Regions from separate parts of the Homo sapiens genome. Here all the other regions are linked to region 3. The links come from fine-mapping of genetic effects on gene expression. A gene starts in region 3. Each other region holds a variant in brackets. All regions are shown on one strand. Distances are between the middles of the regions. Region 1 overlaps RNF121 (ring finger protein 121). Region 2 holds the start of FOLR3 (folate receptor gamma). Region 3 holds the start of LAMTOR1 (late endosomal/lysosomal adaptor, MAPK and MTOR activator 1). Region 4 overlaps FOLR1-AS1 (FOLR1 antisense RNA 1).

The links.
Region 1: its variant is fine-mapped to the expression of LAMTOR1 in whole blood (TOPMed, PIP 0.93).
Region 2: its variant is fine-mapped to the expression of LAMTOR1 in whole blood (INTERVAL, PIP above 0.99).
Region 4: its variant is fine-mapped to the expression of LAMTOR1 in whole blood (TOPMed, PIP above 0.99).

Annotation. Positions count from the first base shown.
Region 1 is chr11:71,961,480-71,969,584 of GRCh38, reverse strand. All of the region lies in intron 3 of RNF121 (ring finger protein 121), which reads right to left. Among named protein-coding and RNA genes, the nearest start is that of IL18BP, 33 kb to the left of the region's middle. RefSeq lists an enhancer at 6,730-6,849. The variant T/C (reference allele first, on the strand shown) is at 4,065.
Region 2 is chr11:72,128,691-72,136,795 of GRCh38, reverse strand. It overlaps FOLR3 (folate receptor gamma), which reads right to left and starts at 1,071. Exons shown (of 5, transcript NM_000804.4): 1 at 1,028-1,071; 2 at 676-849. The coding sequence starts at 843. It also overlaps the pseudogene RPEP6. The variant G/AG (reference allele first, on the strand shown) is at 3,232.
Region 3 is chr11:72,099,229-72,107,333 of GRCh38, reverse strand. It overlaps LAMTOR1 (late endosomal/lysosomal adaptor, MAPK and MTOR activator 1), which reads left to right and starts at 4,037. Exons shown (of 5, transcript NM_017907.3): 1 at 4,037-4,151; 2 at 8,078-8,105. The coding sequence starts at 4,110. LRTOMT (leucine rich transmembrane and O-methyltransferase domain containing) reads right to left here. Exons shown (of 9, transcript NM_001145310.4): 6 at 2,322-2,370; 7 at 1,124-1,278. TOMT (transmembrane O-methyltransferase) reads right to left here and starts at 1,410. Exons shown (of 3, transcript NM_001393500.2): 1 at 1,124-1,410. The coding sequence starts at 1,382. It also overlaps the pseudogene LOC124902837 and a transcript of ANAPC15 not described here. RefSeq lists enhancers at 2,951-3,471, 4,252-4,331 and a silencer at 3,882-4,151.
Region 4 is chr11:72,162,268-72,170,372 of GRCh38, reverse strand. FOLR1-AS1 (FOLR1 antisense RNA 1) reads left to right here. Exons shown (of 3, transcript NR_199595.1): 3 at 6,994-7,051. Among named protein-coding and RNA genes, the nearest start is that of FOLR1, 26 kb to the left of the region's middle. RefSeq lists an enhancer at 4,838-5,647. The variant G/T (reference allele first, on the strand shown) is at 3,614.

The DNA of each region.
Region 1 (8,105 bases), 140 kb after region 3:
TCTCAAAATAAAGTAAAATATGGTTTTATCACACATATACGTAATTTTAAAACATACCGTTTATGCCTAACACAAACTTAGCCAAAAAAAAGAAAACATACCACTTAAGTTTCCATTATTTTTACCTTTCTATAAAAAGTGTCAACTTATAAGTGGTCTTCTAGGACTCTTCTTTTGCACTCAATATTATACTGCTAAGCTTCATCCTTACCATTATTTGTAGCTATAGTTATTTTATATTTTGTCTTTTTATAAGTATGTCATATGCATTATTTTATATGTTATATTCCATTATGTGAATATATCACAACTAACTCACCCATTCACCTTTACGTGAGTATTGTCATTTCCAAGTTTTTGCTACTACAAATAGTGTTGCTATGAAAAATCCTAAGAGGGGCCAGGCACGGTGGCTCACGTCTGTAATCCCAGCACTTTGGGAGGCCGAGGCAGGTGGATCACCTGAGGTCAGGAGTTCGAGACCAGCCTGACCAACATGGTGAAACTCTGTCTCTACTAAAAAATACAAAAATTAGCCGGGCATGGTGGCAGACACCCATAATCCCAGCTACTTGGGAGGCTGAGGCAGGAGAATCACTTGAACCCAAGAGGCGGAGGTTGCAGTGAGCCGAGATCGCGCCACTGCATTCCAGCCTGGGCAACACAGCAAGAGCCTGACTCAAAAAAAAAAAAAAAGAAAGAAAGAAAAAAGAAAAATCCTAGGAGGATGTACCAAAATCTTCTCTTGGCATATATCTAGGAATTAAACTCCCAGATCATAGGGAGTTTAATTTAAAAACAGTTTGAAACTGTTTTTCAAAGTTGTTTCTCCACAAAGGAAACAATATAACTGAGCACAGCCCCAGCGTGGGACTAGAAAGGATCAACGAATATCTACTGACTGAACAAATAAATAGACAGTACTCAATAAATGCTAGCTAGTGTTATTAATTATGTCTACGTAATTACATAGGTGGTAATGTCCCAACTATATTTATGCTCTGCTTCTCCTCTCTAGAACTGACCTTTAACCTACAGCAGATTTGAGAATGAGAGGTCCACAAGAATTGTAAAATTGGTAGCTATGGCTATTACCTAAAATATGCCTAGGCAGGCAGAAGAACTTTATAAGAACCAGGATAGAAAATCAGGAACAGCAAGATGGGCCATCCAAACAGAATAGCAAACAATAGAGTACTTAGCCAACAAGATCGTTCATAAATTGGGCTGGGGGCAGTGGCTCACACCTGTCATCCCAGCACTTTGCGAGGCCGAGGCAGTTTGATCACTTGAAGTCCAGAGTTCGAGATCAGCCTGGCCAACATGGTGAAACCCCTTCTCTACTAAAATACAAAGAGTTAGCTAGGCATGGTGGCAGGAGCCTGTAATCCCAGCTACTTGGGAGGCTGAGGCAGGAGAATCGCTTGAACCGGGGGCAGAGGTTGCAGTGAGCCGAGAGCATGCCACTGCACTCCAAACTGGGCGACAGAGCAGGACTTCATCTTAAAAAAAAAAAGATCGTTCATAAATCTAATCTATAAAAATTTTTCTACCAATTCTACAAATAAAATCAAATGACAAACTGGGGAAAGATATCCGTAGCAAATTATGTCAGAAGGCTTATTCCTGACCTACAAAGAGCTCTTACAAATCAGTAAGAAACATTCCAAAAGAAACCTGAGCAAAGGAAAGAAAATGTACCAAATATATCATATGGCTCAAGCTGTGAATAATACATCTTGTGAATAATACTTACATATAATACTTAATAATGTAAACAATGAATATTTATTTAAAAATTGGGAGGAGGAAATGTTTGTAGTATGTAACGGGTATAGGTATAGCAGTAAAAGATAATTATTACCGCCAGGCACAGTGGCTCATGTCTGTAATCCCAACACTTTGGGAGGCCAAGGTGGGCAGATCACGAGGTCAGGAGATCGAGACTATCCTGGCCAACATGGTGAAACCACGTACTAAAAATACAAAAATACATTTGTACTAAATACAAAATACTAAATACTATTGTATTTTGTACTAAAATACATTTGTACTAAAAATACAAAAATTAGCTGGGTGTGGTGGCATGAACCTGTAGTCCCAGCTACTTGGGAGGCTGAGGCAGAAGAATCGCTTGAACCCAGAAGGCAGAGATTGCAGTGAGCCGAGACCATGCCATTGCACTCCAGCCTGGGTGACAGAGTGAGACTCCGTCTCAAAAAAAAAAAAAAAAAACAAAAAAAACCCACATAATTATTACCTTCCAAAGTAGGAAGTCAATATATAATATTTAAAAGTAGAAATTTATACATCAGTATAAACATGTTATTTAAAAAACATAAATATTATATTTAAATATAATAAAGTAGAAATTTATATCAGTATAAACATGTTATTTAAAAAACACAAATATTGGCCGGGCGCGGTGGCTCACGCCTGTAATCCCAGCACTTTGGGAGGCCGAGGCGGGTGGATCATGAGGTCAGGAGATCGAGACCATCCTGGCTAACAAGGTGAAACCCCGTCTCTACTAAAAATACAAAAAATTAGCCGGGCGCGGTGGCGGGTGCCTGTAGTCCCAGCTACTCGGGAGGCTGAGGCAGGAGAATGGCGTGAACCCGGGAAGCGGAGCTTGCAGTGAGCCGAGATTGCGCCTCTGCAGTCCGCAGTCCGGCCTGGGTGACAGAGTGAGATTCCGTCTCAAAAAAAAAAAACAAAAAACCCACAAATATTATATTTAAATATAATAAAGTAGAAATTTATACATCAGTATAAACATGTTATTTAAAAAACGCAAGGCCAATTGTGGTGGCTCATGCTATAATCCCAACACTTTGGGAAGCTAAGGCAAGAGGATCACTTAAGGCCAGGAATTCAAGACCAGCCTGGGCAATATAGTGAGAGCCAACTCTACAAAAAATTAAAATATATATATATTAGCCAAGCGTGGTGGTGTGTACCTGTAGTCCTAGCTACTTGGGAGGCTGAGGCAGGAGGATTGCCTGGGCCCAGGTGTTTGAGGCTGCAGTGAGCTATGATGGAGCTGCTGCCCTCCAGCCTGGGTGACAGACTGAGATCCTGTATCTTAAAAAAAAAAAGTATCAGAAATGAACTAAAAAAGTTATTAATAAAAGTAGTTGCCACAGAAGAATCAGCGACTGACAGAGTTGGGCAGGGGACCAATGTGTTTTGCTTCTGAAGTCTTGTAGAACTATCTGACTTTTAAAACTATGGTATGTATTACTTCGATAAAAATGGAAATATCAGGCCAGGCACGGCGGCTCACACTTGTAATCCCAGCATTTTGGGAGGCCAAGGTGAGCGGATCACCTGAGGTCAGGCATTCGAGACCAGCCTGACCAACGTGGAGAAACCCTGTCTCTACTAAAAATACAAAATTAGCTGGGCATGGTGGCGCACGCCTGTAATCCCAGCTACTCGGGATGCTGAGGCAGGAGAATCACTTGAACCTGGGAGGCAGAGGTTGTGGTGAGCTGAGATTGTGCCATTGCACTCCAGCCTGGGCAACAAGAGGGAAACTCTGTCTCAAAAAAAATGTATCAAATATAAATCTAGTCAATGATATGAACAAATAATTGAAAGAAGCCAAATGACCACTAAGCATGAAAACATGCTCAACTTCACTAATAATCAGAGAAATACTTAATAAAATCAGGTATTTTCACCTTATCACACTGACAAAGATTAAAAATACTGACTATACCCTACACCTTCTTTAACACTGGGTAACAGCTCTGTTAAATCTGTGTTGATGGATTGTAAACTATAATAGCTATAACTTTCTTGGAGGGCAATTTGGCAAGTTCCACTAATAATTAAAACACATATATTTTTTGACCAGGCAATTTCATTTCTAGGAGTGCATTCTATAAAACTGCTTGCACAGGTATGCAGGTAATTTATGTATGAGAAGCTTACTAAATTGTTGCTTGCAACTGTGATAAACTGTTAATTAACAAGTCAATCGATAAAGGTAAATTAAATTTTATTTGAGATCTATTTTCCAAAATACTATGCAGGCCAGGCGTGGTGGCTCACTCCTA[T/C]AATCCCAGCACTTTGGGAGGCCGAGGTGGATGGATCACTTCAGCCCAGGAGTTCCTGACCAGCCTGGACAACATAAAACCATCTCTATAAAAAATACAAAAATGAGCTGGGCATGGTGGCTCACACCTGTAGTTCCAACTACTCAAAAGGCTGAAGTGGGAGGATCCCTTGAGCCCAGGAGGCAGAGGTTGCAGTGAGCCAAGATCACACCACTGCACTCCAACCTGGGCAACAGAGACCCTGTCTTAAAAAAAAAAAAAAAAAATTACTATGCAGTCATTAGTTTAAGAGGATGATATACCCACCAATATGGATAGATATTTGAGAGATAGTATTAGGTGAAAAATGCCGCAGAACCTAATGGATGTCATAAACATCTAAAAATTTATAAACACACACTTGCAGATTTTTCCTATCTATAACAAATTGATTAACAGTGGTTCCCTCTGGGACACTTTTGATTTCTATGTCACATACTGTTACATTGTTCAAATTTTTTTATAACAAATAAACATAACTTTTGCAGAATGAAAACCTCATCCTGTCTCTAGGCAGGTCTGCTTCATCCTCTAAGAACAAGACAGGCCTTTACCTCTTGTGGGTAATTCAATTTGATACAGATTTCAGAGCTAACTGGGAGGACTTCAAGAAGTCCAGTCAACCATCCCATAAAAAATCACAAACATCCCCTCCACAACATTCCTGACAGGTTGCTAACTTGTACTAAAACACAGCTTATAATACCAGGCACGGTGGCTCACGCCTGTAATCCCAACACTTTGGGAGGCTGAGGCAGGCGGATTGCTTGAGTTCAGGAGGGCGAGACCAGCCTAGGCAACCTGGCAAAACCCTCTCTCCACCAAAAATACAAAAAATTAGCCTGGTGCTGTGGTGTGCGCGTGTAGTCCCAGCTACTTGGAAGTCTGAGGTGGGAGGATCACCTGAGCCTGCAGAAGTAGAGGCTGCAGTGAGCCGAAATCGCCATACTGCACCACTGCATTCCAGTATGGGCAATCAGAATAAGACCTTGTCTCAGGAAAAAAAAAGGTATCCAATTGGAAAAGAAGAAGTGAAACTCTACTCTCAGATGACCAATCTTATATATAAAAAATCCTAAAAAAAACTTTAAAAACTATTAGAGCTAATAAATTCAGCAAAGTTGGAAGACTAACACAAAACGATCAGTTGAAATTCTATATATTAGCAATGAATAATTCAAAAAGGAAATTTTTAAAAATTCCATTAACAATGGCATCAAAAAGAATAACATACTTAGGAATAAGTTTAACAAAGGAGGTGCAAGACTTGTACATTGAAAACTACAAAACATTGATGAAAGAGATTAAAGACCCAAATAAATGAAAAGATATCCTGTGTTCAGGTACTGGAAGATTAATATTGTTAAGATGGAAACATTTCCCCAAACAATCTAGAGAATCAAACCAATCTTTATCAAAATTCCAACTGATTTTGTTTGTAAAATGGAAACGTTGATATTAAAATTAATAAGGAATTGCAAAGGACTCAGAATAGCTGAAACAATCTTGAAAAATAATAACAAAGTTGAGGAACATACTTTCCAATTTCAGAACTTACTACAGTGCTACAGTAATCATAACAATGTGGTACCTGCAAAAGAACAGACATATAGATCAACGGAATAAAACTGAGAGTACAAAAATAAGCCAACATATCTTTGATCAATTGATTTCTGACAAGGTCGTGACATGCCACGACCATCCAATGGAGAAAGAAGTCTCTTCAATAAATGATGCTGGGACAACTGGCTATCCACATGCAAAAGAATGAACTTAGATTCTTATCTCACACCATTTACAAAAACTCAAAATGGACCAAAACTCCAAATGTAAGAGCTAAGACTATAAAACTCTTTTTTTTTTGGGAAGGAGTCTTGCTCTGTTATCAGGCTGGGGTGCAGTGGTGCGATCTTGGCTCATTGCAACCTCCAACTCCCTGATTCAAGCGATTCTCCTGCCTCAGCCTTCCGAGTAGCTGGGATTACAGGCACGTGCCACCACGCCCAGCTATTTTTGTATTTTTATTAGAGACGGGGTTTCACCATGTTGGCCAGGCTGGTCTCAAACTCCTGACCTTGTGATCCGCCCACCTCAGCCTCCCAAAGTGCTGGAATTACAGGCTTGAGCCACCCCACCGGGCCAAGACTATGAAACTCTTCAAAGAAAACATAAGAGTAATCTCTATGACCTTGGACTTGGCAATGGATTCTTAGATATGACACTAAAAGCACAACCAATAAAATTAAAAAATAGATATACTGAACTTCATCAAAATTAAAAACTGTTTATGCATCAAAGGACACTATCAATAAAGTGTCAAGACAACCGATAAAATGTGAGGAAATATTTTAAAATCATATATCTGATAATGGTCTATTATCCAGATTATATAAAGTACTCTAACAACTCAACAAAAAGACAAAAAATTCAACCAAAAATTGGGCAAAGACTTAAACAAACATTTCTCTAAGGAAAATATACAAATGACCCATAAGCACAGGAAAAGATGCCCAACATCATTAGTCATTAGGGAAATACAAATCAACACCACAATGACATCTACATCCACTAAAGTAGCTATAATAAATAAAATTTAAAAAAAAACGGAGTGAAAGAAGTAAGAAGTCTTGATAAGAATGTGGAGGAATGAAAACCCAACCCACGTTAGGACAGAATGGAAAATTGTGCAGCTTCTGTGGAAAACAATTTCTCAGTTCCTCAAAACATTAAACACAGAGTTACCACATGACTCAGCAATTCCACTCCTAGGTAGATTTCTTTTCTTATTTTCTAAAGATATGAGTTTAAGTTTCTCAGTGTAAGATGTGCTATCATGTTAGCATATCCTCTCACCAATAAAATTCAGCATTATGTTTACAGGATGTGGTAGTAACAAGTAAACTGCACATTCCTAGTACAACTGGCCTCATTAAGTCACAGACACATCTCCTGTTAAGAATTAACTAATGAATAACACATCAGTGGTTTTCTAACAGTGCTATGATGAGTCCTAGAGATTTCAGAGGGGGAAGCAGAGGTGTTAGGGTTACCCAACCTTCATATCAAGCAGAGCAGCCTCTTAACTGTTTCCCAGATTGAGTTTTTCCTTAAGATAATGTTTAAAGAAAGGATTCCACACTTAAGGAAAAAGTTCTTATTGAAAATTACTGCAGTGCATATATGCATACTCACTTTCTTCAGAATAGGTTGTAAAAATCTGCCGGGCGCGGTGGCTCACGCCTGTAATCCCAGCACTTTGGGAGGCCGAGGCGGATCACAAGGTCAGGAGATCGAGACCATCCTGGCTAACACAGTGAAACCCCGTCTCTACTAAAAATACAAAAAAATTAGTCAGGCGTGATGGTGGGCACCTGTAGTCCCAGCTATGCGGGAAGCCGAGGCAGGAGAATGGCGTGAACCCGGGAGGCGGAGCTTGCAGTGAGCAGAGATTGCACCACTGCACTCCCGCCTGGGCGACACAGCGAGACTCTGTCTCAAAAAAAAAAAAAAAAAAATCTTTGCAGATTAGCCAAAATTATATAATTAAAAATATTTCTACATATAAGCACAGAAATGCCAAGGGGGCTTTCACTCATTTATGAGTTTACTGAATCCCCTGGCTCAAGCAATTCTCCCACCTCAGCCTCCTCAATAGGTGGGATTACAAGTGTGTGCCACCACTCCTGGCTTGTGTCTTTCCACCTAAAGTGAATTTACTATAGACAGCATATCGATAAATGAGGGGATTTTTAAAACCAATCTGCCAATTTCTGTCTTCTAATGGAAGAATTTAATCCATTTATATTTAAAGTGATTACTGGTAAGGAAGAATTAACTTCTGCCATTTTGCTATTTGTTTTCTGTGTGTCATTTTCCCCACCTAATTTCAACCATTACTGTTTTTTCTTTTTCTTTTTTTTGAGACAGAGTCTTGCTCTGTCTCCAGGCTGGAGTGCAATGGCACGATCACGACTCACTGCAGCCTTGACCTCCCAGGCTCAA
Region 2 (8,105 bases), 29 kb before region 3:
TAGCTCATGGCCCTGAGAATGATAGTCATCTGTCTCTCTCAAAGGTCTACATCCACACCATTTCCTGGCAAGGAGGATGTGCTCTAGAAGGTTCTGAAAAGCAAATGAAGTGGTGGGCACAGAGTTTCCATTTCAGTTTTGGAGAATGAAAGAGGTCAGGAGATGGATGGTGGTGATGGTTGCACAACCACATGAGCATACCTAATGCCACTGAACCGTACAGTTAAAAATGGCTAAAGTGGAAAATGTATGTTATGTATTTGTTTTTTTTTTTTAACCCCGATTTAAAAATAAGCAAATGGAATGTTGGGAGTGACTCAGATGTCATGGGGCTTCCAGGCTGTCCTGTCTTCGCTTTAACCCACAGATTGTGTCCACGCCACAGTCTCTCCCTAGGCACATCCCCAGCCCTCTGGGAATGTGAAACCTTGTAGGGAGCAGGCCAGGAGACCAGAGGAATGAAATACAAGCACACTCCTGAGCCTGGAGTTCAAATTGGAGCTCATATTCCCCAAGCTGCCTCAGTGGCCTTACCTGTGGCATGGTGGCCCTGGCCGCCCCTCCCCTTCCTTGTCAGCAGCGGCACCCTTGGTTCTGACCACACTGGACCTGCCATTGCTCGTGCCATCACCCTCTGACCTGTGTGCATGCTGTCCTACACCAGGCTGCCCTCACCTGGCCATACAGCTCGTCCTCGGGGCTGGGCTGTGTCTTGTGGTGCTTGGCGTTCATGCAGACATTGAGCAGGTCCGTCCTGGCCCGCGCACTCCTGGGCTGGGCACTCCCCGCAGCAGTCACCAAAGCCAGAAGCAGCAGCTGCATCATCTGCCAGGCCATGTCCATCTATTCCTGCCAGAGAGCCACAGTCAGAGGTAGACAAGGCCTGAGACAGGGGCAACAGCCATGTGATTGTGTACTCTCTCCCTCCCAGGCCCAGATCTCTGCTGTCCCCACCCTGCATCCCCTACAGGGCAGCTGAGCCAAGAAATGCGCTGCGTGTAGAGGTGAGAGGGAGCCCTTCCCCTACCTGGAGGCAGGACCTCCACCAACAGCGCTGTAGGTCCAGGCTCTGACACCAGCTTGCTCTGTGACCTTGTAGGGAGCCACCGCCCTTGTGGACTTCCCCTCTTGGATTTCTCCAGTGTTTTATGCAATTCTTTTCAAATTTGCACAAGGAGGAACCACAGGTGGTGGCCTGCTGATGCAGGAGTGAGACTCTAGACAGCCTCAGGCTTCTGCTTCCTCAGCCTGTCCTCCTACCCCATGGCAGCTGAGGTTTAGATGCCCAGGGAAGCTGAGATGGGGACAGCAAGGGCCATGGAGCTGTCAGCTATTGTTCATGGTCCCGGAGCAGATGCTGCGGGAGGCAAGGAGGTGGGGGCAATCACACCTCACCCTTCACCCCTTCTGGGTCTTGGGAAATTACCTAGGCAGAGGCAGGCTCAGAGGTTGGGGGAGGCCAACAGGTCAGCGGCAAACGGAGGAGGGGGCTGAGCGAGAACAGTGGGCGCTATCTCGCCTCCCACCTCTCATCCCCACTTTTCCCTCTGTCCTGTTGCAGGGCCTTACCTCCATTCTCAGCCCACCTGGGAAGGTGGAGTCTCTCCCACCTCCCCACCTACTTTATAACCCCATCCTGCCTGCTTGGTTAGACCCTCTGTTCGGGAAGGTGCACAAGGCTTTGTCTAGGAGACAGCTCAATTGTCTTTCAATAAGGACCCAGTTAAATTATGGTACATCTACCCAGTGGAATTTAATGTGGTAACAAAGAAAGAGAAAGCTCCTGATGTACAAATATGGAAAAATCTTCAAGTGCATTGTTAAGTGGAAAAAGAAAGGTGCAGAAAAATGCTATGTAAAAAATAATAATAATAAATTCTCTGTAAAAAAGGAGTAAGAATGTCTGTGTTGACTGGGCGTGGTGGCTCACGCCTGTAATCCCAGCACTGTGGGAGGCCGAGGCAGGCGGATCACTTGAGGTCAGGAGTTCGACATCAGCCTGGTCAATATGATAAAACCCCATCTGTACTAAAAATACAAAAATTAGCTGGGTGTGGTGGCACATGCCTGTAATCCCAGCTACTCAGGAGGCTGAGACAGGAGAATCACTTGAACCCGGGAGGAGTTTGCAGTGAGCCAAGATCACGCCACTGCACTCCAGCCTGGATAACAGAACGTGACTCTGTCATTAAAAAAGAAAAGAATATCTGTGTTTGCAGGTGAAAATTCTGTGGCAAGGTATGAAAAGAAATTAATAACATGGTCACCTGGCAGTAGAGAACAGGATTAGGCTTGAGACTTTTCTCTGTAAACCTTTCCACATTGTTTTGATTTTTGGACCATGTGACTATAAATCTTATTTAAATACATATAGGTATGTGTGTATACATACATAAATATACCAAATATGAAGTGAAAATACTAAGACACAGAATGACCTCTCTGACTTGATAATATGTATGTAAATTTTGATAACACTAGAATGTATACAACAGTACCTTTAAGTTAAGGATACTACACATGTGCTTGCAAAAGTATGAACATGAAGCCACCAAGAGTTCTGGTCCCTGGACATACATCCAGTAAATTCGATGCAGTTACACCATATATATCCCATTTCTGTGCACAAATGGTAGCATACTGTTCTGTACTTTGCTTTTTTGGGTAGTTTCACTATAAATTTATTCTTTTGACAAAAAAACAAAAACCTCATGAACTCAAGTTATCCACAGTTGCACACTTGAGTATTACTGTACATCTGATAACATAACTAAAATTATTTCTTTATGCCTCGTAGGGTCTAAACTTAAAACTATTTCATTAGCCGATATAAAAAAGTTAGTGGGCTGGGTGTGGTGGCTTACACCTGTAATCCCAGCGTTTTGGGAGGTTGAGGTGGATGGATCACTTGATCCCAGGAGTTTGAGACCACTTGGGCAACATAGGAAAACTTCATCTGCACACAAAAATAGAAAAATTAGCCACGTATGGTGGTGCGAGCTTGTAGTTTCAGCCATTTGGGAGGGTGAGCTGGGAGGATTGCTTGAGCCCTGGAGGTCGAGGCTGCAGTGAGCTGTGATGGCACCACTGTACTGTCAGAGTGAGACCCTGTCTCAGCAAAAAAAGAAGAAGGAAAAGGAGAAGGAGAAGAAGAAGAAAGAAGAAGAAGAAGAAGAAGAGGAAGAAGAAGAAGAAGAAGAAGAAGAAGAAGAAGAAGAAGAAGAAGAAGGA[G/AG]AAGAAGAAGAAGAAGAAATAAGGAAACAAAGAAAGTTAGGAAAGAGAACTTCATGTTTTCAAGTTAAAAGTGCCTAATGCTTGGTTTGTATTTCTCCAACACTCTTGGAGGCAGTAGAACTGCTACTAACCTGGGAAGACGACCGGCACTGCCCCTGTGTATTGCTTATGTAGTGTGAAGTGATGTTTTCCCATTATGATGTTGGGAACATTTCCAATACTGTCATCATTTACTCAGCTAGTAGAGAGCCTCTCCTGAGGCAGAGCCTGTGTTTTCAGTCTGACCTCAGTATCTGGTCCTGCTACAGGTGAGTCTGAGGTGACAAGACCAGTGTCTAGTTATGAAGCCCTTGCCTCCCCAGGGCTCCATTATGGATGAGTCCTGCACCATAGTCAGCAGCCCTCTGCCCTCCCTCCATTGCACCCACCTATGACTCTTCTCTTCTTTTCAATGCCCTCCCCCAACAACCTCTGCCTGTGACTTTGAATGTGTTGTGGGGGTCTTTGCAGAAGAATCGCCCACCTGAGTTTTGGCCAAATTCCTGACTCACAACATCTTGGAATATAATAAAATAGTTACTATTTCAAGCAACTATGTGTATTTGATTTTTAAACTTTTTGTTTTGAAATAATTTTAGATTTGCAGAAAAACTGCAAAACATCGTCAAAAGATTTCCCGTATGTTTTTATGCAACTTCCCCAAATATTGGCATCTTATGTAACCAAAGCCCAGTTCTTAAAAAAATCAGGAAATTAATATTGAGGCAATACTGTTAACTAATCTACAAGCTTTATGCCCTTTACACCAGTTTCCCCCCCAATGTCCTTTCTCTGGCCCAGGATTCAGTCCATGATTCCAGGTTGCATGTAGTTGTCATGTCCCCTTAGTCTCCCTCCAATCTGTGACAGTTCCTCAATGTCTTTGTCTTTTATGACCTTGACACTTTTGGAGAATTACTGTTCAGTTATTTTGCAGAATGTCCCTCAATTTGGGTTTGTCTATATTTTCCTGTAATTAGCTTGAGCTTATGCATTTTGGCAAGAAAATTAGAGAAGAGAGGTGCTTTTGTCAGTGCATCATATCAAGAGGTACATGATGAGGGTTGCTGCATCTTATTGCTGGTGATTATTGGGTTAAGGAGATTTCCTTACTATATAATTATTAGTTTCCCTTTGTTAGTAATCCTACCTTGTAGGGAGACACTCTGAGACTATGTGAATATCCTTTTCATCCACTTAGTTTAACATTGTCTGCAGCAATACACCACAAAATTATGGAATGATTTGTTATGCAGCAACAGACAACTAGTAAACCCATGAGAGTTAGTATTGTGTTTCTTAAACTCTGAGGAAACAATTTGGCTTATAACCTTAGTTTAGCCACACAGCAGTTACTCTTTCTACAACAAAATTCCCAGGAAAAACAGAGTACTTATCATATTAATCTTTAAATTAAATCACTTATAAAAGTGAGTAGTTATAATAGTCAAACTTACTTTACCCTCTGTGAACATTCTGCATGATGGATTTGAGACAGTGGACTGAATAATTGCTCAGGAAATCAGCACTACCTCAGTTACTTTCTGATGGGTCCTCATAGTACAATAAACAGGAGATTTCATAGACAGAAATACGGGCTCTTCAAGGCTTCTTCAATCATGAGAATGTTTCTGAGAAGCTTCTGAGCAAATACTTCTATGGAAGCTGATCACAGATCTGAGGTCTTTGCACTTCATAATTATTCTGTCAATCACAGTCATATTAATTCCTCCTCTGCACATGTATCAATAGCATTACGCCCACAGGGTCCAAAAAGAAAGAGGTATGTCCTCAACCAACGAATTTCTGATATTACAGGCTTCATAAAATTCATGCCCTCCAATCCCAGGCTCCACTATCGTGGCCAAGGCCAGGTCTGGCTGAGTTGCCAATGGTGCTAAAGACTCTACTAAAGATTCAGGTGAATGCCAAGGCCAGCCTTCATCCAAGTGACCAGAATATCTTTAATGAATGTCTGGTTTTCAGTAGCCTCTAGATAAAAGGCACACTGATTTGCTACACCTACAACTATAGCCGTTGCCTTTTTGCTCGTTGTTTTGACCTGAAACTTAATCATGGGCGTGGCCTCTCTTTAAGGCTTTCTATCTCAGGTACCAAAGATGATGGCAAGAACAAAGTGTCTGTCCACTACATCAAAGATCAGATGGTTATCCGAGTCCAGCATCTAGGTGCACTGAGCCCCAGGGAGTCCAGGCAACTGTTGAGGGTAGATGGGCCAATCTTTATTTTACCTTATTTTTTATTTTTAGGAGACAGGGTCTCACTCTGTCACCCCAGCTGGAGTGCAGTGGCACCATCATGGCTCACTGCAGCCTCAACCTCCCTGAGTATCTGGGACTACAGGCACGCACCACCACGCCCAGCTAATTTTTGTATTTTTGTAGAGAGGAGGTTTCGCCATGTTGCCCAGGCTGGTCTTCAACTCTTGGGCTCAAACAATCCTCCAACCTAGGCCTCCCAAAATACTGGGACTACAGGGGTGAGCCACCACGCCCGGCCAAGATGGGCCAATCATGAGTCTTGCCCAAATTCTTGGGCAAAATCTCACAAAATCTTGAAGTATAATTAAACTCACAAAATCTTGAAGTATAAGTAAATAAGTATTGTGTTTTTGTTTTGTTTTGTTTTGAGACAGAGTCTTGCTCTGTCCCCCAGGCTGGAGTGCAGTGGTGTGATCTCAGCTCACTGCAGCCTCTGCCTTCCGGTTCCAGTGATTCTCCTGCCTCATCCTCCCAGGTAGCTGGGATTATAGGCACATGCCACTATGCCAGGCTAATTTCTGTAGTTTCAGTAGAGGTGGGGATTCACCATGTTGGCCAGGCTGGTCTCGAACTCCCGACCTCAGGTTATCGGCCCACTTCAGCCTCCCAAATTGCTAGGATTACAGGCATGAGCCACTGCGCCCAGCCTAATTGGTATTGTTTTAAGACATCAAGTTTATTTGATTTTCTTAACTTAGTGTTTTGAGATAATTTTAGACTTAACAGAAAAATTGCAAAAGTAGTAAAGAGGTTTCCCATATGCTTTCATCCAGTTTCCCCAAATGTTGGCATCTGACAAAACCAAAGCCCAATTACTTAAAAAATCAGGAAATTAACATTAAGGGAATACTTTTAACTAATCTACAAACTTTATTCTTTTTCATCAGTATCCCCACCAATGTTCTTTCTCTGGATGCCATGGCACCAGTCCTCAGGAAGAAGAATAACCCCTAATTCCCTTGCATTTTGATTTCTTTTCTTTTTTCTTTTTCTTTTTGACAGGGTCTCTCTCTGTCACCCAGGCTGGAGTGCAGTGGCATAATCATAGGTCATAGCAGCCTTGACGTCTTGGGCTCAAGTGATCCTCCCACCTCAGCCTCCCAAAGTGCTAGAATTACAGGCATGAGCCACTGTGCCCAGCTCACTTTGCTTGCTTTACTTAACAGAATGTACTATAGATGGTCCCTTATCTGTGTACATAGATCTATATGATTCTATTTCATTATTCTATTGAATTTAAGTGGCTTCTCATATTTCACTGTTATAGTCAATGCTGTAGGGAATGTCCTTGTATAGCCGTCCACCTTTGTATATAATAACATATCTAGTGGAGGGGGAATGTAAAATGGTCCAGATGCTGTGAAAAAAAATTAAACATAGAATTACCATATGATCCAGCAATTCCTCTTGTGCGCACACACCCAAAAGAATTGAAAGCAGGGATGCAAACAGCTATCTGTGCAGTCATATTCACAGCAGCATTAATTCACGATAGCTAAAAGTTGAAAGCAACCCAAGTGTCCACGGATGGATAAATGGATAAACAAAATGTTGTTTCTACAACTGGTCACAGTGAAAGAGTTTTAAGCAGGGGAATGTCACAGTTCAATTGGCAGTCTTGGTGTGTTCAGATGGGATTACGTGTAGGCTGGAATTGGGCAAGGTAGACCAGTTAGAAAGCTGTTTCACAAGTCCAGGCCTGGGATGATGGTGCCTTGACCAGGAGGGTAGAAGTGGGGATTCATTCAAAAACTAAGCTCAGAATTAGTTATTGGGCATCTACCATGTGCTAGGCTGTTCTGGGTTCTAGAGCTACAGAAGTGACCAAGAAAAAGTCCCTACTGTCATAGAGCTGACATTCTAGTTTGGGGGTGGGAGGTTGTTAGAGAGAGACGACAGAAAACAAATAAAGATGATGATTGTGCTCTGAAGAAAACTGAAGCAGGCTAAGGGGACAGAGAGTGATGAAGCAGGGGCTACTATCTTCTACAGGAAAGATCTAGGAGGTGATGCTTGGGCTGATACCATAATGAGGTAAGAAGGGAGTCATGTGAACATGGAGGAAGGAGTGCTCCAGACAGAGGGACCCGTAGGTCCAAAGGCCCTGAAGCAAAAATGTACTCAGTGCATTTCAGGAACAAACAGCGAGGAGGAGGCCAGTGTGGCCAGCAGTGAGCTGGGAGCGGCAGGTGTGGGGTCCAGGCCAGATCTTCAGGGCCCCGTGGTTCAGACTCAGCAAAGATGGGGGATTTTACTCTGAATGAAATGGAAACTTTATTTGCTTTTTCCAGTTCAGCATCTGATCTGACTCTAGGGACAAGGGAAAGCAAACAATTGACACAGATGTCTATGTGAATGGCCCAGCCTTAAGGCAACCATGACTTGAACCAGGGCTATGTGGTGGCAGTGGACGTGGTGAAAAGGGAGGAGTAATGTCATGTCTTTTGAAGGATGTTTTGATAGGATTTGCTGAGATGGAGGACATGAGAGAAAGGGAGGAATTAGGATGACTCCAGAGTGTGTTGGTCTGAGCAATTAGAGAGGAGTGCTTGG
Region 3 (8,105 bases):
CCCTTTTATTGCTCATCAAATGTATTTCTGATCTTGGAATTGGATGAACTTTTATTTATTTATTTTTGAGACCAAGTCTTGCTGTGTTGCCCAGGCTGGAGTGCAGTAGCATGATCACGGCTCACTGCAGCCTTGACCACCCAGGCTCAGGCAATCCTCCCACCTCAGCATTTCCAGTAGCTGGAACCACAGTTACTCACCACCACACCCGGCTAATTTTTAAATTTTTTGTAGAAACGGGGGTCTTGCTTTGTTACCCAGGCTAGTCTCGAACTCCTGGGCTCAAGTGATCCTCCTGCTTTGGCCTCCCAAAGTGCTGGGATTACAGGCATGAGCCACCATGCCCAGCCAGTGAATTTCTTTTCTTTTCTTTTTCTTTTTTTTTTTTTTTTTGAGACAGGTTCTTGCTCTGTCACCCATGCTGGAGTGCAGTGGCACAATCACAGCTCACTGCAGCCTCAGCCTCCTGGGCTCAAGCAATCCTCCCACCTCAGCCTCCCAAGTAGCTGGGACCACAGGCATGTGCCACCATGCCTGGGTAATTTTTGTATTTTTTGTAGAGATGGGTTTTTGCCATGTTGCCCAAGCCGGTCTCAAACTCCTGAGCTCAAGCAATCTGCCCACCTCGGCCTCTCAAAGTGCTGGGATTACAGGCACCAGCCACCACACAGCCGAATTTCTTAAATAAGACCCTAAAAGCACTTATGCTGGGATTGAGATAAATCCAGGCAGACAGCTACCCTAAATGGTATGTGGAAGCCTCCATGGTGGAGAGGAAAGATGTGGAGACAGATAATTACAAAGCTATGGGTTATCTGCTGAGATGGTTATTCCACTGTGTATTATGGTTCCTTTGAGGCCAGCATTTGTGGCTCATTCATCTCTGTGGCCTCTACCCCTCTCCCTGGCACCTAGCACATTCCTAATACAAAAGAGGTGGCAATAAATGTTTGCTGAATAAATGACTTAGTCCAAGCTCCTCATTTCCAGATGAGAAAAAAAAGAGGCCCTAAAAGAGGATCAAGAACCTGCCCAATTCATCCAGTTAAGCAGCAACAGATCCCAAATATTCCTTCACTGTCTTGGGGGTACTTCTTGGAGCAGAAGGCTAGGGAACACTGACCTTTGACAGGCCCCATGTGGCTCAAGTACTCGCAGCGGCTGCTCCAGTGGTCCAGGGTGGTGAGGATGTGACCAGGGTCACCGGGCAGGGCATGGGTGAGCACGTAGCTGAAGGCCCGCTCCTCGATCCGCAGCCCTGACAGGCAGTCTCGGAGGCTTCGCAGCAAGACCGTGCGCACCAGCAATCGGAAGTAGTGCCGGTACCGCACCAGCAATGTTACCACCAGTGGCAGGAAGGCCAATGCAATGGCAGGGGACATGGTCCCTACCTGGGCCCTGGGGTGGAGGGAGGTAGGGAGGGAATCCCATACCCACAATTTGCCTATTTGTGTAGCTTTTGCCAGTAGCAATTATTATCCTTATATTTCACAAACCACGGCTCAGAAAGGCTAAGTCTTTTGTCCAGAGTCACAGAGCAGAACTGGGATTTGAATCCAGGTTAGTGTGATTCCAAGCCTGTGTACTTTCAAGGACTCTATACTGTCTACTTTCAGCACCCAGCCCCAAACCACCTCTTCCCGGTCCCAACCCCTGGTCCCATCTTCACATTGTTCCCCTGACTTGTTTCTCTTTATCCTTGAAGTCACCCCTTCTTCAGGACCCCTTTCACTAATTCACCTCTGGGATATCTTCCCCCACCCCTACCCTCTGCCTGCCTGGTCTCCTCTGACCACTGCTGTGTAGCAAAAGAGCATAGATTTGCAGTCAAAAACACCTTCACTATCACTGTGCCCTGCCTCAGTAAAATGCAATCAAAATACCCCATAGGGTGTTAGAGTGAGATGTCCTCTTTCCCACCCCAGGACTCTCCCTCTGCCTGCTCTTCCCTGAGGATGGGAGGAGTCTTTGATTCTTTAATAATTCTCCAGCCCCATCTCCTCTCCGCTGTATTCCCCTCTTCTCCTGTGCTGTCTCAGAATTCCCTTCACAAATGTGTACATACACATAACACACAGCACACATTTTCCCTCTACTCAGCTCTTCTCTCCAGGGACCTATGGGGAATGGGCCTCTCCTCCCATGTCCTGGACCATTCTCCTCCTCATCCAGATCTGACCTCCTTGCCGGCCTTCTTGCAAGGCCCCTGGTGATGGCGGGGAGTAAAAATGAAAGAGTGTATGGATGGGTGTGAATAGGTGAGTGATGCGGTGGGCTTGAACTGGTGAGCTTGGGAACCCACAATCCAGGGCCCTGCTTACCTGGGCTGGAGGACCAGAGCACAGGACAGGTCGGGGAGTCCAGGGCCTGCTGCGGGGGATAACCCTGAGGTAGGAGGCTGGAATGGCTTTCAATTATTCATGCTGAGGCTGCTGCTGTCACCTGAGACCTGCAGTTCAAGTTACCAGCCCCAGGGACGAGCTTGAGCTGCCTCCTACCCTTCAGGAACCTCAAAAGATTTACAGAACCTCAGGGTCTTGATTTGAGGGGTTATAAGAGGTATGAGATCTGGTGACTTCTCCAATACTTTGGATCAGAAGATGGGGCATGGGGTGAGCCAAGGTGATGGGGTGACTGTAACATGCTCATTGATATGCAAGTTTTCTGTAAGCAAGGCCATGCCTTGGGCTACAGGGAAGAGTCAGAACCTGTCACTGTGCTCCAGGAACTCCCAAGTTTGGTAGGTGAGACTGACCCAGGAACAGAGAATACAATATAGTGTGATCACTATTGGATGTTCCATGACTACAGGGACTTTGGCTGTTTTGTGAACTGCTGCATATCCAGATATAACAATGTGTGGCACATAGTAGACGCTCAGCAAATATTTGTTGATTCAATAAATGCATGAATTAACACTGGATGAGGATTAAGCATAGGGAGCTGGGCATGTCCAGAGAATGGAGTCAGAGAAGGTAATCAGGAGGACATTGTACTGAGTCTCGAAGACAGTAAAGACAGTAGGCAGACCAGGCTGCATGTACAAAGTCCAGTAGATCAATCAGGAAACTACATTATTTCTCTATGTCCAGTGAAACACATTGCTGACCCCTCCACCCCTCACCCCAGAACATGCAGTGGGAGAGGTGTCAGGCTCTTGTTATGTCAGACGGGTAATGTGCCAAAACAAGATTTGAGGGTGGCACATTTGATACATGCTGGTGAACACCCAATCACACGCTCATGAACAACAAATGGATCACTATACAATCTTGGACGGACTTGGACCTGTGTTCAGGGCCCAAGGGAAGACATGGAGCGGGGGTTAGGAAAAGAGAACTGATGGTCAGCTTTGTGCGTTCGATTACAATGGGTGCTGTTAAAAAAGGCAGAATTAAAGATAAAAGCCTGAAAGCAGAGAGGTCAGTGAGGTGGCTTCTATCTCCTCTACCAGGATTTATCTCCGCTGCGCGTCAGCATGTGAAGGTAGTATAAGGTCCCTTCTTCCTGTAAGTCGCAGATCCCCAGCCCAGGTGGAGAATACACCCTCTGTGTATTCACCCCCAGCCCAGCTGGGCGATACACCCTCTGTGTTCCCCGACTAGGTACTGGTCATCTGGATCATCTGTGTGTGTGCACCCAGACCGTACGATCTGGAGCATCAGGCCTGGATCCCAGTCGCCCCTCGCATGGCATTTAGAAGAGTATATCACAAGGGCATACGAGGGCATTTGGTACGAGTTCGCTCAATGGCCCAGAAAAGTGGCCTAGTGGCCACGAGAACGCATAACACAATTCACGATGGCCACTACTGCCAGTTTAGAGACTGGAAAGATGAAGTCATGTGATCCGCCCCGCCCTTTCCCCGCATCACGTGCTTGCGTGTACGGTTACGCCTTCCCATTGGTTGACAACGATCACGCGCTAGCGGGCGGGACCGGAAGCCGGGGTATTGACTGAGGCGGCCAAGCGGCTCCGGGACAGGGGGTACGGGGGGTGGGGGCGGGTGGTTGCCTGCGGGAGGCCGCCGCGGGTCATGTGACCGGAAGGGCTCCTCACGGACGCCGTCCCTCCTCGGCGCGGCCTGAGCGCCCGGCCCGACCCCGGCCATGGGGTGCTGCTACAGCAGCGAGAACGAGGACTCGGACCAGGTGCGGCCGCGGCAGGCGGGGCTCGGGAATGAGGGCTAAGACACTGGGGCATGGGGCCCAGAAAGAAACCTGCGGAGGACGGGCAGCCGGACTGCAGGGCTCACTGAATACGGAGGCCTGGAGGGGACAGATTACAGAGGAGACGCCAAGCCGGGCTCCTACCCCTGTTAAAGCCCCAGATTTCTACACAGTCCCCGCCTCGGGGTGTGCAGGCAGCCGCCTGTCCGGCTCGCTCCCACCACTTCCGTTTGCTCCTACCTTCAAAACTTTTCAGATTCAAGGATCCTCAGTCTAGGTCCCCGGGAAACACTCCCTTCCCCAGCTTCCTGTGTCTTCTGTGTATTAGTGGGCTTTGCGAATCCATTTTAGGGGTGGGTAAGCTGAGGCCCTGAGTTAGTCTGTCCTGAGATGAATCAGGAATTCGTGTATCGTCTTAGTCCCTGGGGTTGCAGAAGGAAGGTCGCTGCTAGTCTAGGGCCAGGGGACGACTCTGGAAGTTGGTGGCCTTTGAATTGGCCAATGAAGGATTTAATCGATACAGTGAGGACATCGGGACATGTGGGAAATTGTCTGGGAAGCAACAAAGAGGATTTAGCTTTGGCTAGATTGTGGGAAAAGAGAAATGGAGCGGGAAGTTCATTTGGTTCTGAGTTTGGCTTGCCTCAGTGCAGTCTGCCTGGGGCCTGAGGGTTCCTTTAGCTGGAGACATGCCTATTCTGAGAATTTGGCTGTAGATCTGATACCTTTGGAGAAAGGGTTAGGCTGGGGAGACCTGTACAGTTTTAAATTCTCCCTCTTCCTCTTAGTGCATTCTCACTTCTCCCCACACTCTAATCCCTGCCCTGCCTGGCCTGACATTCAAGGATGAAGTCTCAAGTTGCTGTCTACTCTCCTTTTTTGATCGTCTCTAAGCCCGGATTCTACATTTGAACATATAGTAGACCTGAGAGAGTAGAAAGGTTTCAGGTAGCTCACGGTCTAATGGGGAAGATGGTCACAAAAATAGATTATATCACTGGTACTTGGGAAGTAGTTCGTTCTTCAGTGAACGTATTTTGGATTAAGGGCTTAAGCCTAGGAAAATGTCGTTTGTATGGGAAGCAAGGGTGGCTTCTGGTTCTCAATTCTCCATACACCCAATGAACACATATTTCCTTTGCCCTGTGTTAGGCATGTGTTGTGCCTAATACCTCTCACTTCACTTCCACCTTTTTGAGAAAGAGACAACAATAACCCTGCCTACTGGGAGAGCTGTAGCCTAGTGGGAAATTGTCCCTTAAAGCATAATATGGACTCTTGCAGGGAATGAGTCAAGAAGGATTAATGCCGTATGAGAAAGGATACAAGCTTCTACTTGGAAGGGAGAGCTGGGCCTGCTGCTCTCCTGAATCTCTACCTTCTCCTTGGGGGGCTCTCATTTCTGTTCCTAACACCCAGAGAAGGTGCTTAATCACTGCTGGGTGATTTGAGGCCTCATGTAGCAAGGGCCATAACCATCCACCATCCCACAGTCCCTCTTTGAGTTCTTGGGCAGGCCCCTCTCCGACTCTCATCTCTGTCTCTTTATCATAATAAAAAATATACAACACGTTACAGTTTACAAAGGGCCTTCACAGTTATCTAATTTGACTCTTGCCAGACATCCGTCATATTAGTGTGGGTTATGTCTATTGAAAGGTGAGGAAGAAGTTCAGAGAAGCTAAGTGATTTGGCCAAGCTGAGAAGTGCTAGTGCCCAGGTGTTCTGACGCTAGGCCATGTACTTTATCCATGGGGCCAAGCTGTCTCAGCCATGCCCCTAGACCAGGTGGCCAGTCACGGGCAGGCTGCTATGTCTGTGCTAAGGTAGACAGTGAAACCCTGCCTCTTGGGTTACACTAATGCAGAGACAAACCTTGATGTGACAAACCTAACCCATGCTCCACTCGCACTTTGGGAGTGGGGTGATGTTTGTCTGCTCTGAAGTAGGTAGCATGGCCTCTTCTTTAAGTCTGGGTTTCAAGAAAATAACCTTGTTGTTCACTTGATCTTAGCTGAAGGCTGAGAAGTGATCAGCCAACCTTCTTCTTGAAGAACCCCTGATAGGGAAGAGACTACCCTGTCCTGCAGGAAGATCTGTCTGAAGTGGAGCTGGGAGGACAGACACATAGGAAGCTAACTTGGGCCTCATTATGGAGCCAGCTTTCCTTAGAAATACATAGTTTTATCTTTGGCAAACATTTTGTCTTTTTAGCTCTTTAATACTGAGCCTATGTATTTAGGGAGGAAGGGTGTCTGGGAGTTTATAGAGGTGATGGGGCAAAGCCCACAGCTTCTGTCTCTTGCTGTTGGGAACTGGATCAAATTGCCTGAGGACACTTGGGCAACCTAGCCTTGAGAAAGAAGAGTAAGGTGAAAAGGCTGGGCCTCCCTAAGCAGGGCAGGAGGAAGTAGCCCTCTACAAGGAGAGTTGTGGAGTTGTGGGCAGGGGAGCTGCGGCCTGCAGCAGGAAAGACTGAGGAACTGAGATAGGCCTGGAGGGGAGCATTGAGGAGTCTGGCACTGAAGGTTGGTGAGTCAGCATTAGCCAGGATGTCCCCCTGGGCCCATCCTTGGCTTTGTTCAGGGCACTCTTGCTCTTTATGGGTTGGATAGATACCCAGCAGGTCTGTTTTTCTCATTTACTGCTGATACAGCAAGCAAGGATTTGCAGCTGATGGTCTCAAGGCAGGGTCAAATCCAGAAATATTACAGTAGATAGAACAGGGGACTGAAAGAGGACAAGGAGGAAGACCAAACCAATGAGGAAGCTTGGTTTGGTCTTACATTAGTTCAGGGGTTGTGATTATCAGCACAGGCCAGCAGGAACAGGGCTGCTGAAAATTTACATGGGCTACTCAGGTGGTTTAGCAAGGGAGGGAACAGCGCCATTGTTGTTTGTTTTGAGATGGGGTCTTGCTCTCTTGCCCAGACTGGAGTACAGTGGCACAGTCCTAGCTCACTGCAGCCTCAAACCCTGGGTTCATACAGTCGTTGCACTTCAGCCTCCCAAGTAGGTGGGACTGCAGGGCTCACACTACCAAGTCCAGCTAATTTTTTTTTTTTGCAAAGACGAGGTCTTGCTTTGTTGCCCAGGCTGGTCTCAAACTCCTGGACTCAAGCAATCCTTCTGCCTTGGGCTCCCAAAGTGTTGGGATTACTGGTGTGAATCACCATACATGGCTACAGCTGTACTGCTCAGATCAGGATACACCATGTACACTCAGTTTGGTTCTGGGAGTCACGTACAAAAAGAGCACCAGAGCACAGGAGGGTGAACACCTTCGAAGGGACCTGCCTTCAAGAAGGGAACACACTTGTACTGTGTGACCCAGAGCTGGGCTGGGATTCCTGCCCTGACATAATTTGAGAAATGGCCATGGAGAGGTTGGGCTTGCTTTCTCTTGGGGCCTAGGGCTTTGTCTGGACTCGCCAGGGCTTCCATCTTGGAAGCGAACAGCTTTGCTGGGGAAGGCCTGGTCCTAGGGGATGAGGAAGGCTGTTCTTGGGCTCTTGACTTGCACTGATTTCCCCTTTAGATCCCAGTGCTTGCTATGTCTCAGCTCCACTGTCTTCCAGCCTCTAGTATCCTTTCTTTGCCAGGTCCTAGAATGTTTTTCAAGCTCCAGGGCTGTTGCTGACTACCTGCTTTGTGCCTCTGTCCATTTTTTCAGGGCCTCTAGGACTGCCTGGTTCCACTCTCATTTATCCTAGAACACCAACTCAGTTGAGCTCCCAAGGATAGGCAGGAACTGAGTCTTATCTGGCATTCCATAAAGCTGGGCACTTTAGATATTCCTTATAGAAACATTTTTGGTGTTTAAGGTCAGAGCTGGGCTAAGGGTAGCACCCGTGAAAGGCAGGATCTACGGGTCCTGGGGCTGACTTCTCTCCCATGACCACTTCTAGGACCGAGAGGAGCGGAAGCTGCTGCTGG
Region 4 (8,105 bases), 63 kb before region 3:
ACTCAAAAGTCCACAGTCCAAAGTCTCAGCAAAGAAAAAGCAAGACACTTCTGCCTATCAGCCTGTAAAATCAAAAGCAAGTTAGTTACTTCCTGGATACAATGGGAGTACAGGTATTGGGTAAATACAGCCACTCCAAAATGGGAGAAATTAGCCAAAACAGAGGGGCTACAGGCCCCTGCAAGTCCAAAATCCAGCAGGGCAGTCAAATCTTAAAGCTCCAAAATGATCTCCTTTGACTCCATCTCTCATATCAGGTCACACTAATGTAAGAGGTGGGTTCCCATGGTCTCTGGCAGCTCCGCCCCTGTGGCTTTTCAGTGTACAGCCTCCCTCCCGGCTGCTTTCACAGGCTGGCATTGAGTGTCTGCAGCTTTTCCAGGCAAACAGTGCAAGCTGTCAGTGGATCTACCATTCTTGGGGCTAGAGGACAATGGCCCTCTTCTCACAGCTGCCCTAGGCAGTGCCCCAGTAAGGACTCTGTGTGGGAGCTCCAACCCCACATTTCCCTTCCGCCCTGCCCTAGCAGAGGTTCTCCATGAGCACCCCACCCCTGCAGCAAACTTCTGCCTGGGCATCCAGGCATTTCCATACATCTTCTGAAATCTAGGTGGAGGTTCCCAAACCCCAATTCTTGACTTCTGTGCACTTGCAAGCTCAATACCACGTGGAAGCTGCCAAGGACTGGGGCTTTCACCCTCTGCAGCCATGGCCTAAGCTCTATGTTGGCCCCTTTCAGCCATGGCTGGAGCAGCTGGGACACAAGGCACCAAGTCCCTAGGCTACATACAGCACGGGGACCCTGGACCTGGCCCACGGAACCATTTCTCCTAGGCCTCTGGGCCTGTGATGGGAGGGGCTGCCAAGAAGACCTCTGACATGCCCTGGAGACATTTTCCCCATTGTATTGGGGGTTAATGTTCCTCTTGTTACTTATGCACATTTCTGCAGCTGGCTTGAATTTCTCCTCAGAAAATTGGCTTTTCTTTTCTATCGCATTGTCAGGCTGCAAATTTTCTGAACCTTTATTCTCTGCTTCCCTTATAAAACTGAATTCCTTTAACCACACCCAAGTCACCTCTTGAATGCTTTGCAGCTTAGAAATTTCTTCCGCAGCCAGGTGTGGTGGCTCATGCCTGTAATTCCAACACTTCAGGAGGCTGAGTTGGATCATTTGAGGTCAGGAGTTTGAGACCAGCCTGGCCAATGTGGTGAATCCCTGTCTCTTCTAAAATACAAAAATTAGCCAGGCATGGAGGCACATGCCTGTTATCTCAGCTGCTTGGGAGGCCGAGACATGAGAAACGCTTGAACTCAGGAGGCGAAGGTTGCAGTGAGCCAAGGTCACGCTACTGTCCTCTGGCCTGGGTGACAGAGTGAGACTCTATCTCAAAATAATAATAATAATAATAATAATAATAATAATAATAAACAAATTTCTTCCACCAGATAGCCTAAACCATCTCTCTCGAGTTCAAAGTTCTGCAAATCTCTAGGGCAGGGACAAAATGCTGCCAGTCTCTTTGCTAAAACATACAAGAGTTACCTTTGCTCCAGTTCCCAACAAGTTCCTCATCTTCATCTGAGACCACCTCAGCCTGGACCTTATTGTCCATATCACTATCAGGCTTTTGGTCAAGGCCCTTCAACAAGTCTCTAGGAAGCTCCAGACTTTCCCACATTTTCCTGTCTTCATCTGAGCGCTCCAAACTGTTCCAACCTCTGCCTGTTCCCCAGTTCCAAAGTCGCTTCCACATTTTTGGGTATCTTTTCAGCAATGCCCCACTCCCAGTACAAATTTACTGTATTCATCTGTTTTCACGCTGCTGATAAAGACATATGCAAGACTGGGCAATTTACGAAAGAGGTTTATTGGATTTACAGTTCCACATGGCTGGGGAGACCTTACAATCATGGTGGAAGGCAAGGAGAAGCAAGTCACATCTTATGTGGATGGCACCAGGCAAAGAGAGAGCTTGTGCAGAGAAACTCCCGTTTTTAAAACCATCAGATCTTGTGAGACCCATTCATTATCATGAGAACAGCACGGGAAAGACCCACCTCCACGATTCAATCATCTCCCACCAGGTCCCTTTCACAACACATGGGAGTTATGGGAGCTACAAGATGAGACTTGGGTGGGGACACAGAGCTAAATCATATCACTGTACATCTAATAACATAACTTTAAAGTTATTTCTTTATGCCTTGTATGTATAAACTTAAAGCTCATTAGCCAATATAAAAAACATTAGGGGGCCGTCCTTGGTGGCTCATGCCTATAATCCCAGTGCTTTGGGAGGCCAAGGCTGATGGATTGCTTGAGCCCAGGAGATCAAGACCAGCCTGGGAAACATAGGGAGACCTCATCTTCACACAAAAATACAAAAATTAGTTGGGTATGGTGGTCTAAGCCTATAGTCCCAGCCATTTGGGAGGATGAGCTGGGAGGATTGCTTGAGCCCAGGAGGTCAGGGCTGCAGTGAGCTGTGATGGCATCCCTGCACTCCAGCCTGGGTGACAGAGTGAGATCCTGTCTCGGAAAAAAAAAAAAAAAAGAAAGAAAGAAAAAAGTTAGGAAAGAGAACTTCATGTTTTCAAGTTAAAAGTGCCTGATCCGGCTGGGTGCAGTGGCTCACACCTTTAATCCCAGCACTTTGGAAGGCCAAGTCAGGGGTATCACCTGAGGTCAGGAGTTCAAAACCAACCTGGTCAACATGGTAAAACCCCATCTCTACTAAAAAAAAAAAAATACAAAAATTAGCCGGGCATGGTGGCACATACCTGTAATCCCAGCTACTCAGGATGTTGGGGCAGGAGAATCGCTTGAATCCAGGAGGTGGAGGTTGCAGTGAGCCAAGATCTCACCACTGCATTCCAGCTTGGGCAACAGAGCAAGATCCTGTCTCAAAAAAAAATAAAGTTGGTTTGTAATAAGCTATAGGACTCTGACAGGTGCTCTCAAATACAGGTTTCTGATAACTTTGGAGACTGTGATATTGGAATAAAGGAAAATGTACAGGACTCATGAAGAGCTAAAATGTTCACGAATATCAAGCATAACAAGAACTGAATGGACTGAACTCAGAAAGCTGAAGCAACCTTTTTGACTTTTGCTTGGAATATTGCTGATCCTTGTTTTGTTTCTCAGAGTCAAGGAAAATTATTTTGAACTCTTTAAGGCCTTTAATACTAGAGTAAGCTACACTCCTGTGAACAAAATTTGAAGCATATTTTTCTCTCTCTCTGCCTGGCTTCTCCAGAATTTGGAAATTATCCGTGAGTATTCTTTTTTTTTTTTTTTTGAGGCAGACTCTTGCTCTGTCGCCAAGCTGGAGTGCAGTGGCATGATCTCGGCTCACTGCAACCTCCGCCTCCCAGGTTCAAGTGATTCTCCTGCCTCAGTTTCCCAAATAGCTGGGACTACAGGCACTTGCCACCACACCCAGCTAATTTTTTGTATTTTAAGTAGAGACAGGGTTTCACCATGTTGGCCAGGCTGGTCTCGAACTCCTGACCTCCGGTGATCCGCCCACCTCGGCCTCCCAAGGTGCTAGGATTACAGGTGTGAGCCACCACGCCTGGCCAAGAATGTCACTTTCTAACAGGTCTA[G/T]GAGCTCCAAATTTGTCATGGGACCTTAACACGAGAAGATCATCCAACTTACAGGTATTTGAGGATACAAATCCATGGCTGGGCTCAGTTTTAAAACGTTTTGTCTGAAATTCCTTGAAGAACAGAGTTCCATCAAAGCCAATCTAAAAGACTTATGTAGAAATAGTTATTCTTGCTGCACTTTATGCAAATAATCAGGCCAAGTATATGACTAAAGTCTATTTTGCAAACAACTCAATCCTACCATAATTTGCTTTTTTAACAAAAATGAGGACTGGAGAGAGAGAAATTATGTTTCAAAACACCATACATTTGTCAATAAATTCTAAAGTCATTAGTGTTTAAGTTTTTGCCTACATTTTTAGGCTAACACTCCTTGTTCCTGTGAACCAACCAGCAATCTCCAGCTGCAGCTCAGAAAGAAGGAGAGGATGGGTAATGTAAAAATCTGGATCAATATTTTAGTTCTGAGCAATTATCCTGCAAATCCTGCCAGGTGATGGGAATAAATAGGATGCCCATTAATCGGAGGTTTCCTTTTTTGGAAAGTAAGAGCTAACCAAAGCCAAGCACCATGCACCCAAATCCTAGCTTACATAACTATAGCCACCAATTATCTGGGCATGTCACAAGACATCTTTTTCTCTCCCTTGTTGGAGGAGGACTCAATTCTGCAGCTTCACCTTCCTTAGCATTTGGCTTATGATAAGGAGTCCATGCAGCCCTTCCTAGACACATATTTTTGTTTCAAATTCTATTCCAAGCTTTGAGTCAAAGCCCCAGGAAAGAAAACTGGATCTAAGGGATTCAGAGGCAGATGATAACAGGGGTTAAAAGGCACAGTGCAAGGCCGGGCACAGTGGCTCACACCTGTAATCCCAGCACTTTGGGAGGCCAAGGCGGGCAGATCATGAGGTCAGGAGATCGGGACCATCCTGGCAAACACGGTGAAACCCCGTCTCTACTAAATATACAAAAATTAGCCAGGCATGGTGGCATGCACCTGTAATCCTAGCTACTTGGGAGGTAGAGGCAGGAGAATCGCTTGAACTGGGAGGTGGAGGTTGCAGTGAGCTGAGATCATGCCACTGCACTCCAGACTGGGCGACAGAGCAAGACTCCATCTCGAAAAAAAAAATACAAAAATTAGCTGGGCATGGTGGTGCGTGCCTGTAATCCCAGCTACTCAGGAGGCTGAGGCAGGAGAATCACTTGAACCAGGGAGTCGGAGGTTGCAGTGAGCCGAGTTCACTCCACTGCACTTCAGCCTGGCAACAGAGCGAGACTCTGTCTCAAAAAAAAAAAAAAAAAAAAAAAAAAAAAAGGCACAGTGCGTGCAAGTGAGCATGGCTAATTCCTGCCAATCAAGCCAAGCCTCCCATTTCATGGATAAAGGTCATGCTAGTATCCATGGCATATGTAGGGGTGGGTTGCCCCTACACACCTGTGGGTGTTTCTCGTAAGGTGGGACGAGAGATTTGGAAAAGAAAAAGACACAGAGACAAAGTATAGAGAAAGAAATAAGGGGACCCTGGGAACCAGCGTTCAGCATATGGAGGATCCCGCCAGCCTCTGAGTTCCCTTAGTATTTATTGATCATCTGTGGGTGTTTCTCAAAGAGGGGGATGTGTCAGGGTCACAAGACAATTGTGGGGAGAGGGTCAGCAGACAAACACGTGAACAAAGGTCTTTGCATCATAGACAATGTAAAGGATTAAGTGCTGTGCTTTTAGATATGCATACACATAAACATCTCAATGCTTTACAAAGCAGTATTGCTGCCCGCAGGTCCCACCTCCAGCCCTAAGGCGGTTTTTCCCTATCTCAGTAGATGGAGCATACAATCGGGTTTTATACCGAGACATTCCATTGCCCAGGGACAGGCAGGAGACAGATGCCTTCCTCTTGTCTCAACTGCAAGAGGCATTCCTTCCTCTTTTACTAATCCTCCTCAGCACAGACCCTTTACGGGTGTCGGGCTGGGGGACGGTCAGGTCTTTCCCTTCCCACGAGGCCATATTTCAGACTATCACATGGGGAGAAACCTTGGACAATATCTGGTTTTCCTAGGCAGAGGTCCCTGCGGCCTTCCGCAGTTTTTGTGTCCCTGGGTACTTGAGATTAGGGAGTGGTGATGACTCTTAAGGAGCATGCTGCCCTCAAGCATCTGTTTAACAAAGCACATCTTGCACCGCCCTTAATCCATTCAACTCTGAGTTGACACAGCACATGTTTCAGAGAGCACAGGGTTGGGGGTAAGGTTATAGATTAACAGAATCTCAAGGCAGAAGAATTTTTCTTAGTACATAACAAAATGGAGTCTCCTATGTCTACTTCTTTCTACACAGACAGAGTAACAATCTGATCTCTCTTGCTTTTCCCCACAGCATAAATGAGGTCTAGGAAACTCCAAGACTACTGACTGTAGGGGGTATAGAAACATAGGTAAGAGCGGATAATTCCTATTCTCTCTTTTTTTTTCCCCGAGATGGAGTCTTACTCTGTTGCCCAGGCTGGAGTGCAGTGGTGTGATCTTGGCTCACTGCAACCTTTGCCTCCTGGGACCAAGTGATTCTCCTGCCTCAGCCTCCCGAGTAGCTGGGACTACAGGCATGCACCACCACACCCAGCTAAGTTTTGTATTTTTAGTAGAGACGGGGTTTCACCATGTTGGCCAGGCTGGTCTCAAACTCCTGAAATCATGATCTGCCCACCTCGGCCTCCCAAGGTGCTGGGTTGTACAGGCGTGAGCCACTGAGTCTGGCTGATAATTCCTATTCTCTAGGTACTCCCTGCTTCATGGGTGCAAGCTGCTGTGGCACCCATGGCAGCACCTGCCAAGGTCACCAGGACTTGGGTATGCAAGGACAGAAGAGGGAAAGAGGACGCTCTTCCTTCTCTCCCTCATGTACCCCTGGTATCTGCTAGAAAGAGATAGGAGACAGGGATGCCTGCTCCCCTCTTTCTAGATGGGTAGCCATTCATCTTCACTCTGTACCCCTTTTGAATGCATGCTGAACCCCTGGGACTCCTTTAAAAAGCACCTTTTTTTCCTTTCTTCTCCACTGTCTTCTCTTCACTAATAGGTAATTGTGTCTTTGTACTATAGGACACTCCCCTCAGATGCATCCTCCAAACTGGAAAGAGTTAATTTCCCAAACCTTCAGCTGGTTGGCTTAGGATTGGGCTCAGAGGAAGGGAACCCACAAGCATGACATGCTGGCAAAAGGGTAAAGTTTTTTTTACCAGTCGGGCTTTTGGTTTCCCTCTCCCTGTGCAAACTGGTAAAAGGCCTAGGGATTTTAAGCTGTCCTTACCCTCCCTTGTTTCGTTTTAACACATGTTTTCTAATAACCTGGTTTTTCTCCTCTTGCCTTCAGGCCATCAAACTCCAAATGGTCGTGCAACCGGAGCCTCGGAAGATGGCGCCTTCTGCCGGGAACCCTTAGATAGGCTTCTGAGGGAGCTCTGACTGCCGTTTCCCAAAACACCGCTCCCTGTTAGCAGGAAGCAGTTTAGATCGGTCTTCGTCCTCACCCCTATCCTTGTTCTAACAGTAGTTTGATGTACTTCTTGAGAGGGGGGAATGAGACAGCCAAGTGTAAAGGGGTCCCCAGAGAACCTCTGACAAACCCGCACACTGGGAGGAATGTGCACTGGGGTGGAGCCTCTGGAAGTTCGTGCTGAGGAGCCTGGCCCCTCCTCTTCCAGGGTGGAACCTGGGATTCAACCTGAGAGGTGGGAAGCGTGTACTAGCAGGACTCTCACTCTGCCGAGGGTCCCCGTTTCCCCGCTTTTTTTTTTTGCCCAATAAATTCCATTTTTCTCACCCTTCAAAGTGTCTGCAAGCCTAATATTTCATGGCCAGGTGACAAGGACCCTGTCTTTGGCTGAACTGAGGAGAAACTCCTACAACATTACCATCCAGCAATTCCTATTTTTTTTTTTTTTTTTTTTTGAGACAGGGTCTCACTCTATCAACCCAGGCTGGACTGCAGTGGCACAGTCATAGCCCACTGCAGCCTCTACCTCCTGAGCTAAAGAGATCCTCCCATCTCAGCTTCCTGCATAGCTAGGACTACAGGCGTGGACCACCACACTGGGCTAAATTTTTTGTATTTTTATGTAGAGACGGGGTTTCACCATGTTGCCCAAGCTGTTCTAGAATCCCTGGCTCAAGTGATCTACCTGCCTTGGCCTCCCAAAGTGCTGGAATTACAGGTATGAGCCACCATGCTTGGCTTCCAACCAATATTTTAAAGTTCATGATGGGAATGGAGTTTGTCTCAGATGATAGATTTTTATGGAGCCACATGCCAATTTCCTTAGAATACTTTCCCTCATGGATACACCCCACAGAAACTCAGAATCATCCCCTCAATTCTTATCCCCCCTCATGCCCATTTACAATTAATCCCTGTTGTCACTTCCAGCCCCAGGCAACTACTAATCTACTTTCTGCCTCTATAAATTTGCCTTCCCTGCACATTTC